Linked DNA regions of Homo sapiens: region 1 is linked to region 2. Evidence: fine-mapped expression QTL. A gene starts in region 2. The other region holds a variant in brackets. All regions are shown on one strand. Distances are from middle to middle.

Region 1 (10,278 bases), 23 kb after region 2:
ACTAGACTCATGATGGGCTGCATGTGGGGTATGAGGGAAAGGCAAGACTCAAGGATGGCTTATAGGTCATTGCTTAACCTCCAGGTCGATGGCAGTAAGCAAATAATACACAATCAATTTCTTCCAATACTGACAGATGACAGAAGGAGAAAGTCGGGGTCTTCAGCAGCTGGGCCTGAGCCAGTCTGAGGGCTCAAGTCTGCCACAGCAGAGGGTCCAGGAATTGGTCACAGGGACAGAAAGAGGGCAGAGGATGCTCTCTTATCTCCGCTCTGGAGCCATGTTCTATTTCCACTCAGTCAGGAGAGCACAAAAGATATGTTTTTGGGGAGACTGTGGAAATGTGACCCCATACACATTTATCTGAACTATTACTCAAAGGAAAACCAAAACTACTCAATGAGGAAACTTACCAAGTTTATAACATTTACTGAGTTACAAAAACTTGTGTTACAGGATATTGTTCTTGATTTTCTTAGGCAAATATGAGCATCTTACCAACAGAATCTCTTTGGTTCCTTTTAGCATGAAAAATCCCTTTAGAAAACTGGGAGGCTGAGGCGGGTGGATCACCTGAGGTCAAGAGTTCAAGACCAGCCTGGCTAACATGGTGAAACCCTGTCTCTACTAAAAAAACACAAAAACTAGCCGGGTGTGGTGGCATCCGCCTGTAATCCCAGCTACTCCTGCTGAGGCAGGAGAATCGCTTGAATCCGGGAGGCGGAGGTTGCAGTGAGAGAAGATGGCGCCACTGCACTCCAGCCTGGGTGACAAGAGCGAGAGAGCGAAAAAAGAAAGCCTCAGAAAAAAAAAAGAAAAAGAAAAGAAAAGAAAAGAAAAGAAATCTGTCTGAGGGCTCATCCTGTGAAGTCTCACAGCACTTAGAAGTGACGTGGCAGAGAGTGGGTGGGCTCCCAAGGTCAGAGTTTGAGGTCCGCTGTGAGCCGACCCCCTGAAGTAAGGAAGTTAATGGAGTTGTGCCTCCTTTCAGATTTGGGTATTCGGATTCCCGTTGGACATGTGGACTACTTCGTCAACGGAGGCCAAGACCAACCTGGCTGCCCCACCTTCTTTTACGCAGGTCAGAAAGCCAGTACAATCTGGTATTTGGCAACCCCGGAGATTGAAATTCACCAACAGCTTTTGTGTTGAGTCAGCCAGAGTGGGCCATAGAGGGTCTACTTGACAGTGTCCTTTGCTATGTCCCATAACGCTTTACTCAGAATGTATTCAAGGATGGATGTCTTCAGAGCCCAGGCATTTGAGGGGAGGGTGTGGCACAGTCCACACCAACTGCATCCTCTACAGAGCCTTGCTGTGGCAGAGGCAAGCCATTGTGCCCAAAGCTGGTGAGCAGAAGGATCAATTCACTGCCCAGCCATTTCACCATATTTACCAACTCAAACAGTCCTCTAAAATTGTTTTCAAGATGATCTTTTTGAACACATTCAATGACTGTACATTTCCTCTCTTTAAATACAGCCTTCTGGAATTTTTAAAAATATATTTATTGATATATTCTTAGCAGACTAAATTTGTCAAAATCTAAGGTCAATAATTATTTGGTTTTCTTATATCTTATGAATATAGCCAATATATCAGAATTTCATATAAAAATTTAAAATGCTGATTTCTGTTTACTATGTTTTTAGTCTTTTCTTGCTTTACCAAATTTCTAACATTTTAAGGATTCCTTTGACAATCTTATTGAATAACTACTGATCTATTTTACCAAATTTACTAGTTTTCCAAAAACATGCTTCTTTTCGCAATTTGCGAATTTCTCAGCAATTCTGATAAAATAGGATAGTTTGGTTTCAATGGCTTTTGAAGATTTGGTGGCATTTCAATTGACCACTTTTCATTTTTTCTTCATAACACAACTTGAGAAGGGTTTAGTTTGTCTCTGCCCCAGCTCCCTGTTGCAACTGGAGAGAGCTTGGCCATACAGAGTGTCCCAACCACAGGGGAAAGGAAAGTCAAAATATTGCTTGGCCTTGGTTGCAGGTCTCAGCAACGAGGTCTCAAGGTGCAGGGAGAGTTTAAAGACCCCAGGACCCTGGAGTTGTATACAGCTCACCACATACTTCTTAGTTCCAGCCAATTTATCCAATGTTGAATGCTGCAAACTTAAATAGTAAATAACAGTGAAATAAGTTTTGGTAAACTGGGATATTTGACAAATTCGGCATATCAGTCATTTGGCCCGGTGAGCCTCAGCACATTGGGTGTAGAGAGTGACCACAAACGGCGGCTGATGCAGCAGTCTCACTGCTGGGTAGGGTATAATGAGGTTGTAAAAAATTGGTTGTATGGCTGATGATAATGGAGGTAAAAATATGCACAAATACCCATTTTGAGAAATGGGGCAGCATCATCAACTCTCTATATATTCCCATTTTATGAAGGAGAGTTTGCATGATCATATAATCCATCTCAAGGCCAGGTACGGTGGCTCACACCTGTAATCTCAGCACTCTCGGAGGTTGAGGCAGGTGGATCACCTGAGGTCAGGAGTTTGAGACCAGCCTGGCCAATATGGCAAAACCCTGTTTCTATGAAAAATACAAAAATTTGTGAGGCATGGTGGTGTGCGCCTGTAATCCCAGCTACTCAGGAGACTGAGGCAGGAAAATTGCTTAAACCCAGGAGGCAGAGGTTGCAGTGGCCCAAGATCATGCCATTACACTCCAGCCTGGGTGACAGAGTGAGATTCCGTCTCAAAAAAAAAAGAAAAGAAAAGAAAAGAAAAAAAAGAATGCATCTCAAATCAAGCAATTTTCTTGATGGATTATGCTTATGTATCTCAGGAAAAGTAAAATGAAAAAAGTAGAATGTAGTAACCATGTACACTAATATTCTGAAAAAGTGATTTGAGGGGACTCCCATGCATGTATTTACAGCTTGCTGGAATATAAAATTCAATAGAGTTTCACTAAACAGCATAGATTTCCATTTGTCTTGACTGAAACCTTGGTTGTGTTTTTTCTCTGTTCAGGTTATAGTTATCTGATCTGTGATCACATGAGGGCTGTGCACCTCTACATCAGCGCCCTGGAGAATTCCTGTCCACTGATGGCCTTTCCCTGTGCCAGCTACAAGGCCTTCCTTGCTGGACGCTGTCTGGATTGCTTTAACCCTTTTCTGCTTTCCTGCCCAAGGATAGGTAAAGTGCTACCCCTTTGACTTCCTTTGACAATGTGGGGAAGTTCAAGCCCTGCTAGTTGTCCCCTCTTAATGTCCTGATGTCCTATGGTCAAGAATTCTATCCAATTTGGGAAAAGAAAATTAAGCAATGAGGTGCTCAGCCTGTTCTTACTTGGAGGTGGACGGTTGGTTCTCGTGCCCCACCCCTCACTCTCTATAGTGTTCCCTATGGCCATCCTTGCCCCACACACACCCTTCCCACATACAGGTTCCTCCACTCTCAGACCAGATGCTGCCTATAGGTCTTTCTCACTTCTGGCCATTCTCCAGTTCTTCATAGACCCTAAATCTATGACCCTTCATAGACCCTAAATCTATGGTGGGGAATCCCTAAGAGTGGAACACAAGACCTACATTACAGGTCGGATATTCTGGTGGCCTCGTGAGAGCTGGGGGGATGCCTAGTTGCTGGAGGACTTGGGCACCTTCCTGGATGATCCAGGCCAGTCTGGGGAAAGGATGCCAGGAAGGCTGCAGGATCTGGCCTCTAACTCACTTGTGTAGATCATTGCTATGCATATCCCGTGGTTATCCAGGATGAAGAGCTCCAGGAAAAACTCCTGGGCAGTGGAAATGGTTTCTCTCCCTCCCGCACTCTCTCACTTCCCGCTACCCCTGGCTGCCACTCAACTGCAGCAGCCTGTCACTGCTTATATGAGTGAAATGGGTACCAGCTTGACAAAATAGTAAAGTAGGGTAGCTTCCAATGATAGAACCAGTCATCATTATTTCCTATTCATTGTGCATATGTCAGTTTCCCCTAGATGCCATGGACCCACAGACATAACAGCCACCTCACACTGTCTGCCCAGCCTCATCTCTCACTACACTTTCTCTTGCACTGAACACCTGGTGGTGCTAACTACTTGTACTTCCAAGTGTACATCGGGCTTCCTCACCTGTGTGCCTTGGTCCTAACCATACTCTCTTCCCAGAATGCCCTCTCTCCACCTGTCATCCACTAGTCTTCAGGTCAAACACTTCCTGCTTCACCATGCTCCCACTGCACGGGATATAAATGTCATGAAAACAACTACTATAGGAGATTGGTTTTGCAAGTTAGAGACAGATTAGTGTCAGATTTCTTATAATAACCTGCCAAGAATGAGTCAGATGATCTGAAAAGCATATTTCCGTTTATGTGTGTGTTTACTGCCCACTGGACCGAGTTGCTGGGATCCCAGGACTCA[C/T]CTTAGAATACAGCACATAGTGCGTGTATGGTGTAGATGTCCGTGGAATAAATGGGTGCATGAATTAATAAACACGTGGCTGGGTGCTGTGGGACCCTAAGATAGCCTTCTCAGGACTCTGCTGTCTTTGCTTCTTTATTTCCAGGACTGGTGGAACAAGGTGGTGTCAAGATAGAGCCGCTCCCCAAGGAAGTGAAAGTCTACCTCCTGACTACTTCCAGTGCTCCGTACTGCAGTGAGTAGGGGGAAATGCATGAGCTCAGCTCTGCCAGGGCACCACCAGAGGAGTCCAGCCCAGTGTGGTAGCCTGGGTGGGAGTGAATGATAAGAGCAAAGGCATCACCGGAGGTGTGGCAACAGCCCCTGGTCTGAACCAAAACTTTCAGAGTGAGTCCAACCGATTGCTCTTCAGATGAGGACTTGGGGGCTTCTTACTGTCTATCTACTGATCGTATTTCCTCTTACCCTCAAAATTTACCCTCTAGTGGGTCTTCTCTCTCGAGTGATGTTTAGGAGTGTCCTCCGGCTGCCTCCTTTCTGCACTCTCATTTCCCACTTCTTGGCGCCCACCCTATGTGGTTCTCACCCTGGCAGCCTCCAAGGTTGGGGTCCCTGGGGAATACTGAACCTTTCCCTCTGGTCTCCTTCCCCTTCACAGATGCATTCCAGCTTCTCACTGTTGCTCCTAACCATGGCATTTCCTTGAAGCTAGGATGCTGGTGATTGTAACGATGTTAAATGTGAAGTAAAAATGTGTCCAGAATCCATGAAATACATTACAAGCTAAACCGTCATCCTTCCCTATGCTATGTGCATCTTAACTAGGGTGACTATACTTCCTGGTTTATGCTGGTTATCCTGGGGTCCTGTTTGCTTTATCATGTGTACAGGATAAAGTATGCCGGCTTGGATGATAAACAACATGCCACCCAATTTTAACTGATTTTCTGATCAGCTTGTGTCAAGTCAGTGCAGGGATCTTTGTGAAAATATCTTCCTGGTACCAGAAGGCCTGGTGCCATATGACATGGAGCCTAGAGCTCAGACTCTGTGTTCACCTGGACCTGGATTCAAATCTCAGCTTCTCCACTTACCAGCTGTGTGATCAGGAACAAGTTATTTAAACTCTCTGAACTCTATATCCTTATGTGAAAATGGGAACCATAACAGTACCTACTTTAAAGAACCAATTGTGAGTATAAAATAAAATGGTGCACAGGAGATCACTAGCACAGGGACTGGAACCCAATCAGTAATAATTTCCTTCCCTTAGTCAATCAGAGAATTTGGGAGAAGAATAGTTAGGGTGTTTGTATCTTCATGCCAGAGAAAATTTTTGGCTACCTCTTAGGAGCAAAGTGGACTACAGAGTCAACTGTGGGCTTTTCATGTCCTTATCAGCTCTTTCAACAACCCAACTGGGAGACTTAAGGAAAGGGAAGCTCTGAGAGACCAAGTGGCATGCCCAAGTCTCCACAGCTGGATGAAAAGGTCAGAACTCAACTCCAGGTCTCCTGACTGTAAACTCTATACTCCTTCCTCACCACCACCATGCTTCCATCTTCTGAGAACCTGCTGTCCGCAGGCCGTACGTCTCAGCTCCCCTTCTGTCAGCGCCACCCCATCTGAGTTGGCATGCGGGAGGATGTTTTGTCTGGTGGTGGAGGTGGTGTTGCCAGGACCAGATGTCCTGACTTCTAATTCCAGCTGCTGGGCAGATTCACAGCAACCTGAGCTGGTGCCTCTGTGTCTGTGCAGCTAAGAATATACCCAGCAGGAAAGTGTGGGGAATGCCTGGAGACTAACAGCATGTTAAGGTCCCTGCTGAGGGGGTTCACAGGGCCATGTTTTTTCTGACTCTTTTGTATTTATTGTGAGACCACCTCCCCACACCTTCAGAAGCGTAGCCCTGTTGGTTCCAAAACCACAGAGGGGCACATAAACAGGCATGCTCTGCCTTGAGCTGTCACTTCTAGGGATGGAAGCGGAGTCCTCCCTGCTCTCCCTGGACAGATATGGGTAGGGAGGGGGTAGGGACCAGCAGCTCTCCAGCCACTCTCAGGCCATCATGGCACTGGGCTCCCATGCCTAGCACTCTTGGTCTGCTTTGACTTCAGCAATGTTGACCTGTGCCAGGCATGCGCCAGCATGGGCAGAGGATCTTCTACCAAATAATAATTTTTAAACAATATATTCCCTCATAGAACAGTTTTTCACATAGTGTACCTTTTCTCCATTACTTCACTCCATCCTTACCATGTCCTGTGTGATAAGTTGAGGGCTATGGCTTGCAGATGAGGGAACTGAGGCATGGAGAGGCTCAGTGTCTTAGGCAAGGCAGCATGGCTTGTAAGCAGCAGGGTTGGGCCTTGGATCCAGGCCTCCTGACCAACCACTCAGGACTCTGTGTTGTACGACATGAGACATGTTCCTGTGCAGATTTGATTCCACTAATTCCCACCCACCCAACATTAGGCCTAGCTCCCTTGGGGCCTCCAGGGTAAGTGAAGAAAGAAGTAGGCCAGGTGCAGTGGCTCACGTCTCTAATCCCAGCACTTCGGGAGGCTGAGGTGGGAGGGTTGCTTGAGGAGAGGAGTTCGAGACTGCAGTGAGCTGATTGTGCCAGTGCATTCCAGCCTGGGCAAGAGAGCAAGAACCTGTTTCTGAAGAAAGAAGAAGAAGAAGAAGAAGGAGAAGGAGAAGGAGAAGAAGAGGAAGAGGAGGAGGAGGAGGAAGAAGAAGAAGAAGAAGAAGAAGAAGAAGAAGAAGAAGAAGAAGAAGAAGAAGAAGAAGGAGACAGAATCTTAGAAAACTTTCTTAATCAATGATACTTGCTAGCAAAGGAAGAAGTATTAATAATATAATATAGCAAACTCAGCCCTGAGAATTAAATTCCTAAAGCTTCTGTAAGTTAGCTATTTTTTCCACATTGCAAATATCATCCTTTCCAGTTCAGCCCTTGCCCGTCCCCATAACAATTGATATCCCATAGTAACATCTGAGAAGGAGAGACAGACAGGGTGTGGTATAAGATGTCCTCCTCTGTGGAGGGGAAGCATTCAAGGCCCCTTTCTTCTTGTGGGTTCTTGGCATCTTGGCACCTTTTGGTGAGCCCTGTTCCTAACCCCAGGGAGCTCAGATGGGCCATAGCACTCCTTCAACTTAGTGCTGAGTTCACCTGCATCCAGTTTATGTTCCCTTCCCCAATGTTAGCCCATAAAATGTGGCAAATGAGAAAGTACAGGTAGAGTAGAGGCGAAGGATTGCATCTCTAGCTATGTTCCCATCACCAAAGGAGCCTGGGAAAATTCCGAGACTAAAGTGATTGCAAAATGCCACCAGGTTGCACCTACCCCTTAGTAAAAAAAAAAAGGACAGTGTGTTAGGGAAACTGTAATCTTTCTTTTCTTATTTATTTATTTATTTAGAGACAGAGTCTCGCTCTGTCACCTAGGCTGGAGTGCAGTGGCACGATCTTGACTCACTGCAACCTCCGCCTCTTGGGTTCAAGCAATTCTTCTGCCTCAGCCTCCCGAGTAGCTGGGACTACAGGCATCCACCACCACACCCTGCTAATTTTTTTGTATTTTTAGTAGAGACGGTGTTTCACCATGTTGGCCAGGCTGGTCTCGAACTCCTGACCTCAGATGATCTGCCTGCCTTAGCCTCCCAAAGTGCTGGGATTACAGGCATGAGCCACTGCGCCTGGCTTTTCTTAAAATTTTTAATTTTGATTTTTTTTGAGACAGGGTCTCCCACTGTCACCCAGGCTGGAGTGTGGTGGCACAGTCACGGTTCACTGCAGCTACAACCTCCCATGCTCAGGTGATCCTCCCACCTCAGCCTCCCAAATAGCTGGGACTACAGGTACACACCACATGCCCAACTAATTTTTTGTTTTTGTTTTTTTGTAGAGACTGGGTCTTGCCATGTGGCCCAGGCTGGTCTTGAACTCCTGGGCTCAAGTGATCTGCCCACCTTGGCCTCCCAAAGTACTAGGATTTCAGGCATGAGCCACTATGCCTGGCCTGTAATCTTTCTTACCTTCTCTTGCCAGAGGGACAGCAGGTCCCAGGGGTATCACCATGGCCCAGGCTGTACACCCAGTCTATGTTGGCGACACTCACTTTGAGAGCTCCAGTGTCCATGCTGCTCAAGGGAGAGTCTGGATGCCACATAGGTAACCAGCGGCTGCAGGGAGAGGAGCAGTCTCCTACACACACAGCCTGCTTCCCTGACGCTGGGTGTGTGGAGAGGGAGCAGGGCCGTTGCTGTATTTAATGAGTTAATTCTCTCTTTCTTTTTTTTTTTTTTTTTTTTTTTTGAGACAGAGTTTCACTCTTGTCACCCAGGCTGTAATGCAACGGCACCATCTCGGCTCACTGCAACCTCTGCCTCCCGGGTTCAAATGCTTCTCCTGCCTCAGCCTCCTTAGTAGCTGGGGTTACAGGTGCCTGCCACCATGCCTGGCTAATTTTTATATTTTTAGTAGAGACAGGGTTTCACCATATTGGCTAGGCTGGTCTCAAACTCCTGACCTCAGGTGATCCACCCGCCTTGGCCTCCCAAAGTGCTGCGATTACAGGAGTGAGCCACCACGCCTGACCTTATGAGTTAAACCTTTAGTTTATGTCTTAGTCTACTTGTGCTACTATGACACAGTACCTGAGACTGGGTAACTTACAAAGCTCAGAAATTTATTTTCCCACAGCTCTAGAGGCTGGGAAGTCCCAGATCAAGGCGCCGGCACTCCATGTCTATAAGGGTTGCACTTTCTGCTCCCAAGAAGGTGCTTTGCTGTTGCATTCTCCAGAGGGGACAGATACCGTGTTCACACACAGCAGAACGCAGGAGGTCAAATAAGGGCCCTGCCAATTCCCTTGAGCCCTTCTATAAGGCACTATTTCATTCATGATAGTAGAGCCTTCATGACTTAATCCCTTCCCTCAAAGGCCCCACCTCTCAGTACTGTTGCACAGAGCATTCAGTTTAAACATGAACTCGGAGGGGACACAAACAAAAGATAGCCGTATATGATAGATGCATTTTGGCTCATTCAAGATCATCCCACCATGAATATGTCAGCAAACAAGGGGAAGTAAAACATTAGTATTACAAAATAACAAAAACTAACATTACTGAATGCTTCCTAGGCACAGGCACTGTCCTGAGAAGTTCATACATATTAACCCACTTATTTCAGACCTAGGGTATCTATTTTTTTTTTTTTTTAGACGGAGTCTTGCTCTGCCGCCCAGGCTGGAGTGCAGTGGTGCAATTTCTGCTCACTGCAAACTCTGCCTCCTGAGTTCAAGCGATTCTCCTGTCTCAGCCTCCTGAGTAGCTGGGATTACAGGCACCCGCCACCACACCTGGCTAATTTTTATATTTTTAGTAGAGATGGGGTTTCACCATGTTGGTCAGACTGGTCTCAAACTCCTGACCTCAGGTGATCCACTCGCCTCGGCCTCCCAAAGTGCTGGGATTACAGGCGTGAACCACTGCGCCCAGCCAAGTGTCTATTTTTATTATCCTCAATTTGCACTTGAGGAAACTGAGGACCTGAGATTATAGGTGATCTGCTCCTGGGCACACAGCCACTAAGAGATAGAGCCAAGATTCCCAACCACACTGCTGCTCTCTGGGGTTTTTGCCCATTGCACCTTCTGCCCTCTGGCCAGTCTCTGTTGTGCTTTGGTTTCCTAGTGCATCACAGCCTCGTGGAGTTTCACTTGAAGGAACTGAGAAACAAGGACACCAACATCGAGGTTACCTTCCTTAGCAGTAACATCACCTCTTCATCTAAGATCACCATGTACGTAAGTGTCCCACCTGGTTGACTCCTCCCCTTAGGAGTTGGTTACTTTTTCATTTTACACAC
Region 2 (10,278 bases):
CTTGGAGATAAGAGCAAAGAAAGAATCCTTTGGTCTCCCAATCTACAGAGCTGTGGATAGAAACATTTACTAATAGACAGCCATGCTTCAAAGCAGTGTTTCTCATCATTTTGGCTGGTATATGGACAACCCTCCTCCCCATTGTCAATGCCAGCAGATGGAAGTGACACAGTCCATCTGTTGGCCCACTTCAGGGGCCGGCTGTGTCTTCTTACTATATCTTCCTTCTAAAATACACTTTCTATTGGAGACTGCTCTAGTGAAGGTGACATTCTGAGGTGAGGTGGACTCTCTACTGTCCCTTATTCCACCAGCCCTGAATCCAGGAGACCTAGGAGGGGGGTGCTCTGAAGGTGTGAATTTTTTCCTTGTTGCAGGCACATGGTAATTGCTATGTAATTAGGACTAAGAAAAGGCATGCTCTGTGATCTTTTCCAGAGAGCTGCCATTGAAACCCGGCTCTGCCACCAGATGCCTCCAAGCCTCAGGTTGCTCAGGACTAATGTAAGTTGAGGCTAATAATGCCCACCTTGAGGAGAATGGTGAGAATGAGAGTGGGTAGCATAAATTCAGTGGAATGCATAAGGACCTATTGCTGGTGGTAGTTTTTCAAATTCAAATCCATGCTCTGCCACTTTGTGTAGCCTTGGGCAAGTTATTAAACCTTGCGCTGCCTGTTTCTGAACGTGGAAAATGGGGTTAATAATAGTATCTACCTTGTGGGATTGTTGTACTTTTTACACAGCATAGTATCTAGCATATAATAAGCAGTTAAACAAAAAATGGAAAAAGATGTGTTAACATATACTATCTATATATTATTGATAGCTTTTAGAAAGTGTATCTAGTGTCTTCTTTTTACCAAGCTGTCATGAAATGAGAGACCCAGGGATATTCCCAGACAACCACCTCCAGCCAGTTTCTTATGTCATTTGGGAAACTTTTGACACAACCCCGGGTGCTCACAGGGTTTTCTTTCTCTTCAACCTTCTCACAATACTCCCTTGCCATAATGCACACCCAAAGATAAACCCTTAAGGTTCACAATTTTACTTTGAAGTTAGGTGATCTCAGGGAATAAACACTAAACCATTGAATTTTAGTATCAAACTGTCATTTTAAAGCTACAAATAATTTTTAGCCTTCTCAACACTTGCAGGCTTGGCATCTCCTGCGGGGTACACAGCATCTCTGTTCTGGCAAAACCACAAGTGACCTTTTTGTCTGGGCTAATATAAAGCTGGTCTCTACTTATTCTTTCTGGAAAAACAGAGACAGAATATAGATGTTTTTAAATGAAAGTTAAAATAATGTGGTTTGGCATATTAGAGGCATGAAATGTTCTTTCTCCATAAGGTTTTAGACCGTACTGTGTGAAAAGCAGGTTCACTGTGATTTGTCTGAGTCTTGGGAGACAGAACACCTATGCATGCAATGAGTTACAGGAATCTGGCTTATTACTTACAGCTAGGCAGCAGACAACAGAAGCCTGAAATTCATGTGAGCCAGTACCCAAGGCTTAGGAAAGCTGCCTGTGGCACACGGATCCTCATCTGCACATGCCCACTTGTACCACAACTGAGGACCCCCAGGAAGGCAGCCCACCCTGGGTTTTATATTCAAAGGAAACAAGAATCACTGAGCTAAAGCATTGAAGGATATCGTGTTTGGGGGTGTGGGGTAGTCGGGGGACTGGAACAGATTCCAGGATGTTGGATTCCCAGCACATTCTACAGTTATTCTTGAGAACTATAAGCCAGAAAGCTGAAAGAACCGGGCCCAGTCCAAGACCTTGAAAACTGTCTTGCACTACACTTATATTTTATGACTTGTTCTGAGAAGGTAAGTGTGTGTGCGTGCACGCACGTGCATGTACCCATGTTCACATGCAGGACATACAGGACAGCAGGAGTGGAGAGACTCCATAATCGTGCTCTTCACCTCAAATTGGAATCTGGCAAGATTGGACTTTCTGAAAATCAGGTAGGATAAGGGCTTCAAGCCATTTTGGGTTGAGCACTAAAATTTCATGACACATTCTATCTGATGGAATTCTATGCAACCTTAAAAGAAGAATGAGGCAGCTCCAAAGTATTTTGTTTAATGTGAAACTCAAGGTTCAAAAGAGTTTGCGTAAGCCTGGGCGTGGTGGCTCACACGTAGAATCTGAGCACTTTGGGAGGCAAAAGTGGGAAGATGACTTCAGCCCAGGAGTTCAAGACCAGCCTGGGCAACATGGCGAAACCCTGTCTCTTAAAAAAAAAAAAAAGAAAAGAAAGAAAGAGAGAAAGAAAGAAAGAAAAATTAGATGGCCATGGTGGTGTGTGCCTGTACCAGCCACTTGGGAGGCCAAGGTGGGAGAATCACTTGAGCCCAGGAGGCCAAGACTGCAGTGAGCCATGATTGCACTGCTGCACTTCAGCCTGGGTGACAGAGCAAGACACTGTCAAAAAAAAAAAAAAAAAAAAAAGTAGTAGGTCAAAAGAAGGGTGTAAAAATCTAAAAAGCATGAGATAGAATATCTTTAGGAGGATAAGCAAGAAAACCATGACAATGCCTGATTTCTATAGGATTGGGAAACTTGGGGGAAAGGGATGGAGATTTATTTTTAACCATGTTTTTGTATTTTTTAAAAAAGCATATATGTGTAGACCTATTACAAAATACATGTTAGGCCAGATATGGTGGCTCACACCTCTAATCTCAATGCTTTGAGGTTGAGATGGGAAGATTGCTTGAGACCAGAAGTTTGAGATCAGCGTGGGCAATACAGCGAGACCTCTATCTCTACAAAATAATTTTAAAAAATTAGCCAGGCATGGTGGCAGGTGCCTGTACTCCAAGCTATTTGAGAGACTGAGGTGGGAGGATCACTTGAGGCCAGGAGGTCGAGGCTGCAGTGAGCCAAGATTACACCACTACACTCCAGCCTGGTTGATAGAGCAAGACCCTGTCTCAAAAATAAATAAATAAATAAATAAATAAATAAATAAATAAATAAATAAATAAAATTAGCTGGGTGTGGTAGTGTGCACCTATAGTCTCAGCTACTCAGGAGGTTGAGGCAGGAGGATTGCTTGAGCTCAAGAAGTGAGGCTGTGGTGAGCCATTATTACACCACTGCATTTCAGAATTTTGAACATTGATGCCCTGGTCCCTTGCTCATTGTGTACCCAGATCCTAGGCAAATAAAACCATCTGTCTCCACCTTACAATGGGTGAGTAGGACCCCCTTTCTAAAAGAGGGGTGGGAACTAACCAGCACACCCTACCAGTTGAACAATGCCTTCCCCTGGCAAATACTTATTGACCACTGGCTGTGTAGCAAGTACTGTGTTACATACTGGGATATCTCAGTGAGCAAAACAGGCCAGGACTCTGCCCTTCTGAGGCTGACATTCTCCTTGGGGGAGATGGACAGCATACACTGAATATGAATTGTGGCTCTCTCAGTGTCTCCAGGTAGGAGGGTCTCATCCTCACCTTCTAAAATATGTAATCTCACTTTTCAGAAGGACGAGGTTTAGTCCAATAAAACTCTTGCATATCTTGTTTCGCCTTGGCCCTCTCAAGCAGTGTCCCTAGCCCCTGGCCTATCTGAGCTTCAGTTTCTCCACTGGTGAAATGGACATGGCTATTGTAAGTATTAACAGAAGACTAGTGGTTCTAGCATGCGTACGATCACCCGAGGAGCCTGCTGGAACTGCAGAGTCCTGGGCCCAGTTCCAAAGATTCTCATTCTGTGTGTCTGGGGTGGATCCAGCAATCTGTCCCAAGTCAATTGGATGGTTGTGAGGCAGGGGGTTCTGGAAGGGACCACTCTGACCCCGCTTGGAGAGCTCTGTGCTAGATGTTGGATGTGAAAGAAAGTGAAAGTGCTCTCTCAATGTCAGCTGTATTCATGCCATGCACAAGGGCACCCTGGATTAACTATCTCTGGCCACGGTGTGGGTGGCTAGGAAAACAGCCCTCAGTTCTCCTGCTGTAGGGAAAATGATTGACTGATGGCTCCAGCTGCTGTCTTCTGAATCTACCTCTGTCTTTGTGCTGAGGCTGACCTCAGCTAATGACTAAGCAAGATGTGGCTGCTAATGCAGGCTCATTTCTACAAAACACATCTGCTGTCACAAAAGACTTTGGCCTGAGGAGTCCCCATTGGCCTGGTCAGAATATTCTAGAAACTGTGCTGCAGCCTGAGACTCTTCCTATGTAATCCTCTCTTTCCTGCCCATTCTCTTTCACAGGTATCAGATGTTCACCACCATCTAAAGGCGCTTCCTGGCTTCTCTAGTACCTCTTATTCTTTACAGGTGTTAGCTCGATAAATCTCTTGCATATCTTGTCTTACCTTGGCATCTTCTTCTCCGAGGACCTGAACTCATACACTTGGCTTGGTCTCTAATATCAAGACAGCTTTCAGTAGTGACCTCTGCTGTGCACTACTTATTGCCACACCCCTTCCTGGTTGCAGCAGCACTTGAGCAGTGAGATCATGTGCACAAGGGGATGTAAGGGCTAGCCCCTCCAAAATAATTGTATCCTGCGTTCAGCCATGATGACATGGTCCCAGAGCCTCTTCAGGAGTTGTTGCTGTAGAGTATCGTTGCTCAGAGCATGGATTCTGGGGCTGGCTCATCCCGCTTTAAATCCCAGCTCTGCATGACCTCAGGCAAATGACTTAAATTCTCTGTGCCCTACCAGCTGTGTAAAACACAAATGTTTGTATTTAATACAAATTACTTCTATCACAGAGAAGTAATTTGTACTTATCTGTGCTTACTAACTGTGTAATTGTCACAGTTAAGTAATTTGTATACAATTATAATACAAATAAGTAATTTGTTGTACAAATTACTTAACTTCTCTGTGATAATACTCACCTCAGAGAGTTATTGTTTGGAAAAGATGATCCTGGCCCTGCCAGTGGGCTGTCTACCTCACAGCAATGTGTTATGATTTAGGGAGTGGGGGGCAAGTGCCCTGCCCTCTGCCTCTGCCCCATTGACTTGCCTAGAAATAGCTCTTTGTGGTTTCTGCCACTCTTTGGGGTGGAGAGGCCATATGGTGCTGGAACCATCTTGGTTCCAGGCCCGGCTCTGCCACTTCCACCAACGGGATCTCTACAGGTCATTTTCTTTTTCTAATATGCAGTTTCTTTGTGAATTCAGGAAGTTGAACATCTCCAAAGTTGGACTTGACTCCTAGCCCCAAGATTCTACAAAATGATAGTACTCTCCAGAGGAAACTTTTTCTTCCCTTCTTCCCTTTAAATGGACACTTAATATATAGTATTATCTCAGTCTTGTGCTAGGCACTGGGTATTCAAAAATGAAAAGAGAAAGCCTTTGCTCTCAAGTCACTCAGAATCTTCTAGGGAGACACACATGTCCACAGATAATTCCAACACAATGAGGGGTTTCTGGCCACCCAGAGATGCAGGACTTCTGCCTTGGTTATTACTAACATCCTATCACGGGAAGTGGGAGAGGTGCAGGAAATAGTTTCCTGATCATGTTTGGCTCAAAGAGGGACAGTGTGTTTCAATGCACTCTGGTTAACAAAAAAGAAAGTGTATTTATTTTCATTGAGAAGAAGAAACCGAAAACTCTGGCATTTAAATAAATAAAGAAGAATTTATTTTTCCTTTTCAGGTCATGAGGCTAGTTAATGATTAGTGAAATCCACGTGGGTGTTTTCTGAGAGGCTGGGTTATATGATCTCTTTGGCTTTAGGGAATTACTCCATACCAGCTCTGAGATTTCCAGCTCAGCGATGCCCCCAGGTCCCTGGGAGAGCTGCTTCTGGGTGGGGGGCCTCATTTTGTGGCTCAGCGTTGGAAGTTCAGGTAAGCCAGGGCTCAGGCCTTGGGAGGAACTTATTTCAGTCAGTGATCATATTTCTCCAACTACTTATGCAGTACTAACTTTTGGAAGATCCCCTAAAAGCCTTTTGCCTCTTCTGAGGTGAATTTAAAACAGTAGGGGAAAAAAACCCCTTTTATCATAATCGGAATGATGGTAAACAGGTCACAAAACCTGAACTTTCCCTGGTTATCCGACTCATTTTTCTAAAGCCCACATAAAAAAACCCTTTCTCACCTTGCACAAGCCAGGACCAACTGTAAGAAAATAAAATTTGGTTAATTCTAAGATATTCATTTTTCACCCCATAAATATCCACCATTCCAAGATATATTTAATTTTAAAATTTAGGTTTTCCAAACTAATAATGATTTTGTCACTGAGATTGTTAGATGTCCTTTCTAATCCAGCAACCTAACTCAAGTGGTTTGTCATCCTGGCTGGGTGATGGGAACTAGTCCCTGCTAACCTCAGATGCCCCTGGGAAAACTTCCCTCAGATGCCAATTTGCATTTACCTTTCCCCCAGTAAAGAACTGACCCACTGATCCCTCTTGCCTAACAGAAAATTAACCTGCTCTACTTTGGGTTCTCAGAAGTTCTCAGAAGACTCCTTCTCACTATGGTGAGGTCACCCTTAGAAAAATCCCCTCCCTCTACTCACAATAGCAGGCTGCTTTTCTGTCTTCTCCGCTGGACATTTAATTCTCATTCCCTGGCTCTAGAATATGTCATTGCTTCTGCCTGGGGTTGCTCACATCACCTTTGGATTGATTTCTGTTCTTTGCATCTTTCAAGGGGGCTTCTGTATTCCTATCTCCCTTGTACTCATTCTTTTTCTGCTCAGCACCCCTCCCTGCTACAAAGTTCCACTGGGTGACTGCATGCTCTCCTTGCACTCATGGGTGGTTTTTCAGAGGTGCTGTTGAGCTCTGTATGTGCTTTCTCCTACCTCAATTAGTTGTCCCTAAAAGGTGAGGATTTGAGGCTTCTGTCTCTTTTAGCATAGTTAGTGCTGTGCTCTGTATAGAGCAGATGTCCAGTGAATATTGCAGACATTGATGCTTAGAGGAGGCAATGGGCTGAGCTGATGGGGAATAGGCTCTGTCTGGGTCGGGCTAACCCAGACTGGAATCCTGGCTCTGTTTCTTTGTAGCTATGTGACCTTGAGGAAGTGGCTTTCTTTACCTGTAGCTAGAGATGATCCTTACCAGATAGGAATGCTGTAAGGACTGAATGGGATCATCTGTGCACAGGGCCTGACTTTTGCAGTTGCTTATTCCTTTGTGATTTTATTATTAGCAAATTGTTGTCTAGGCTGATGGAAGTGGAGGGAACAGGGCTGTCATGAGCCACCTTGGAGAGAAGGTGGGAGGTATCACCTAGGAGAGCTGTGGGTCCCGTTCTGAGAAGTGGGCTTGGCAGGCCCACTTTGTCCCTGCTCAGGAGCCCCAGGCCTCCTTAGGGGCTGGAAGGCATTTGCTAGTTGTCCTGATTTGAAGGTTGAGGAGTGGGAGGACTATAGCAAATTGGCATCAAACTCTTTTTGGAAGCTCATCTGTCGGTAAGCCTGGGGCCTCTGTCACACAGATAAGAGAAGCTCAGAAATTCTGAACCAGATAGCAGGGTTAGGGTCAGCGCAGAAGCTGATCAGGTTCCAGCCACATATGTGGGAATCATTCTAGATGCTCTGGGCAGGAAGTGGGCTTATAATAACATGTTAGCAGGGCCTGGGTATTTCCTTGCCTGGTCTTCTTGCCTTTGTTTGTCTCTGGTGTCTTTCTTTTCACACTTACCCAGTGAGGCATTCTCTATTTCCCATCCGCTTCTCTTCCTTTCCCACCTTAACTGAGTGTTTCACTGTCAACAGCAACAATATTTATTAAGTTAATGTTCCTTATTCTTACTTTTAGTAGTGCTGTCTCAGAAATTAAGTGAGTTGATGGATAGGCAGAGATAGAAGTGTGTGTGCGTGTGTGTGTGTGTGTGGCTGGGAGGGATAGAAATATGCCAAAGGGAAAAGGAAAAAGGATGTAATTGACTTCAGACAGCCTAGATGAAGTAGGTGGACAGAAAGAAGATGCCGGATGCAGAGAGCTCAAGGTAAAGGAAAGGAAGAGCTCAAATGATCGGGAGGGAGGAGGTTCAGGAGGTATCCAGGTGCCTGCTGTCACACAAGGGCAGTAGCTGACCCACATGGGCCTCTTGGAAGTTCAGCCTCCACTCACTTTCCTGGCTGTGTACCCACACAATCTTTCATGACAACCCCAGTCACACCTAGTTTTTCCTTGGACTGTGGAGCTTTAGATTGTTGAGCTCCTTGATCAACCTGGCCCTTGAGCTTCCAGGCTGGCTCAGGCGTCCTCTCCTCCAGGTGGATGCACAAGTCTTCCTCCATCTGGGGTAGGTGGTCTTTCTTTGTGTTCTCTCAGTACCTATGTTTCCTGGTCACAGATCTTACATCCCTATTTGCTGTGGGGCCTGCTTATTTTCCCTTTCTCCGCTAGACTTTGAGCTCCCAAAGGGCAGTTATGGCTGGCGTCTTCTTCATCCTTGAATCCCCAGAGCCTCACCCAGGCCCAGGCACACAGGACACATTCAATAAGCCAAAAGCCTTGGTAACTGAGAAGAAAGAAATTGAGCGGGCTGCAGTCCTCATCTCTACTTCCTGACGTTAGGCAGATTGATTAAATGACACTCATCCTGAAACAATTCAGCCAAAGAAGGGTTCCAGAGGGTGGCCCATTTCAGAGACACTCCTGGCTGCTGATGCCTCAATCCACAGGTCATCTGATAGCACAGCTCTGTCTGTGGGGAGCCCAGGGCTCAAGGGGGTGGCAGGAAGTTCAGTGGCCCATAGTGCTGAGCTGGTGGCAGAAGCAGCCTGTGACACCAGCCTCTGTAAGGCCAGCCTGGGCCTGAAGGTGGTGCTGCACCCTGCATGCGTGGCAGAGCCACCCTCAAGTCAGCTATTGGGAGGGGGCCTCCGCCCTCCTCCCCTCCTGCAGTGTCTTCCCGAGGAGCCTGGAGGAGGGTGCCTGCTTCCCGACACATGCACCGATGGCTCCTCTGTCATCTCCACATTTGATAACAAAGTGTCTGATGTGGTTTTGTGCCAACTCTGTCACTGCCAGAACACCCTTCCCTTCTTGGTCCAGGCCACAGAATCAAAACTGTTTTAGCAAAATAACACTTCTACGAAACAAAAGCCCATGGGGGATACCGATCTACAGAACACACCTGAGACAGGTGCAGGTGGGAGTGCAGAGTAGCACATTTCCAGCATTTGCAGATCACAGAGGCCACCCATGGGAACCATGAGCAGCCCAGGCGGGTGAAGGGAGCTCTGTCATATATGCCTGAGAGTCACTTTCCATTATGGAAACATGGGTGTTACCAGGCCTTACTCACCCTTCTCTAACACTTCTTCAGTGTCAAAGACTCAAGAATAGAAAACTATAGGCTATTTTCAGACTCAGACAAGCCAGTATTTCATTCTGCACCCCTCATTTCTATTGTTTATAAATCTCTGGTCAGCCTGGCCAGATACTCATGTGTCACTGTTCTTTGGTTGGAGTGGTGGCTAGGTAGAGGCAGTATCTGAATATGCTTCCCTATTTATCAGCTTCAAATACTGGCAATTTTCTTCTCTCCCTTTTCAAACTTTATAACTTTTATCCCATTGCATTGTCTTGTTTCAGTGGTTAGGACTAGGTCCTCTAGCACAATATTTAATAGAAGCAGTGATAGCAGACATTTCTTATCTGTTCCCTGTTCTAAATGGAATACTTCTAATATTTCCCAGTAAATCTAATCCTTACTGTAGGCTTTTAGGAGATATCCTTTCTTATGTTAAAGAGGGTTGAATTTTGTCAAGTGTTCTTTTTTTCTGCTCATCCGTTGAGATGAGCATATGGTTTTTCTTCTTTAGTTTGTTCATACGTGAATTATATTAATACTTTTTTTAATGTTAAAACAGCCTTTAATTCTTTGCAAAGAATTGGCCCAGCAAACCTTGCTGGGCCATGATGTACTTTGTGGTCTTGTTATCCTGGATGGATTTAGATTTGCTGATATTTTATCTTAGATTTCTGTTTATGTTTATAAATGAAAGTAGCCTTTAGTTTTTCCTTCTCCCCTGTCCTTTGCACTTTTGGTACTTCGGATATTCTCATAGAATGAACTGGAATCCTGTCTCCCATTTTCTATTCCTGGAACAGCATGTGTAAGCTAGGGATCAATAGAATTCCTCTGTGAAACTCTCAGGCCTCTTAGACTTTTCTGAGGGATAGTTTTGAAACTAGTGTTTCAATTCCTTTATGCTATAGTTTTACATTTGATTTTCTGTTTTTCCTTTCTTGACTAAGTTTTGGTAAGTTACGTTTTTCTAGGAAATGATCCATTTTCTAGCAAAATAT

What was found.
Region 1: its variant is fine-mapped to the expression of PLA1A in skeletal muscle (GTEx, PIP above 0.99). The same link has a PIP of 0.9 or more in nasal epithelium.

What each region holds. Positions count from the first base shown.
Region 1 is chr3:119,615,021-119,625,298 of GRCh38, forward strand. It overlaps PLA1A (phospholipase A1 member A), which reads left to right. Exons shown (of 11, transcript NM_015900.4): 6 at 992-1,081; 7 at 2,999-3,166; 8 at 4,543-4,632; 9 at 10,104-10,212. Among named protein-coding and RNA genes, the nearest start is that of PLA1A, 22 kb to the left of the region's middle. RefSeq lists an enhancer at 9,105-9,304. The variant C/T (reference allele first, on the strand shown) is at 4,398.
Region 2 is chr3:119,592,142-119,602,419 of GRCh38, forward strand. PLA1A (phospholipase A1 member A) reads left to right here and starts at 5,744. Exons shown (of 11, transcript NM_015900.4): 1 at 5,744-5,845. The coding sequence starts at 5,773. RefSeq lists enhancers at 6,423-6,612, 8,441-8,580, 8,761-9,260.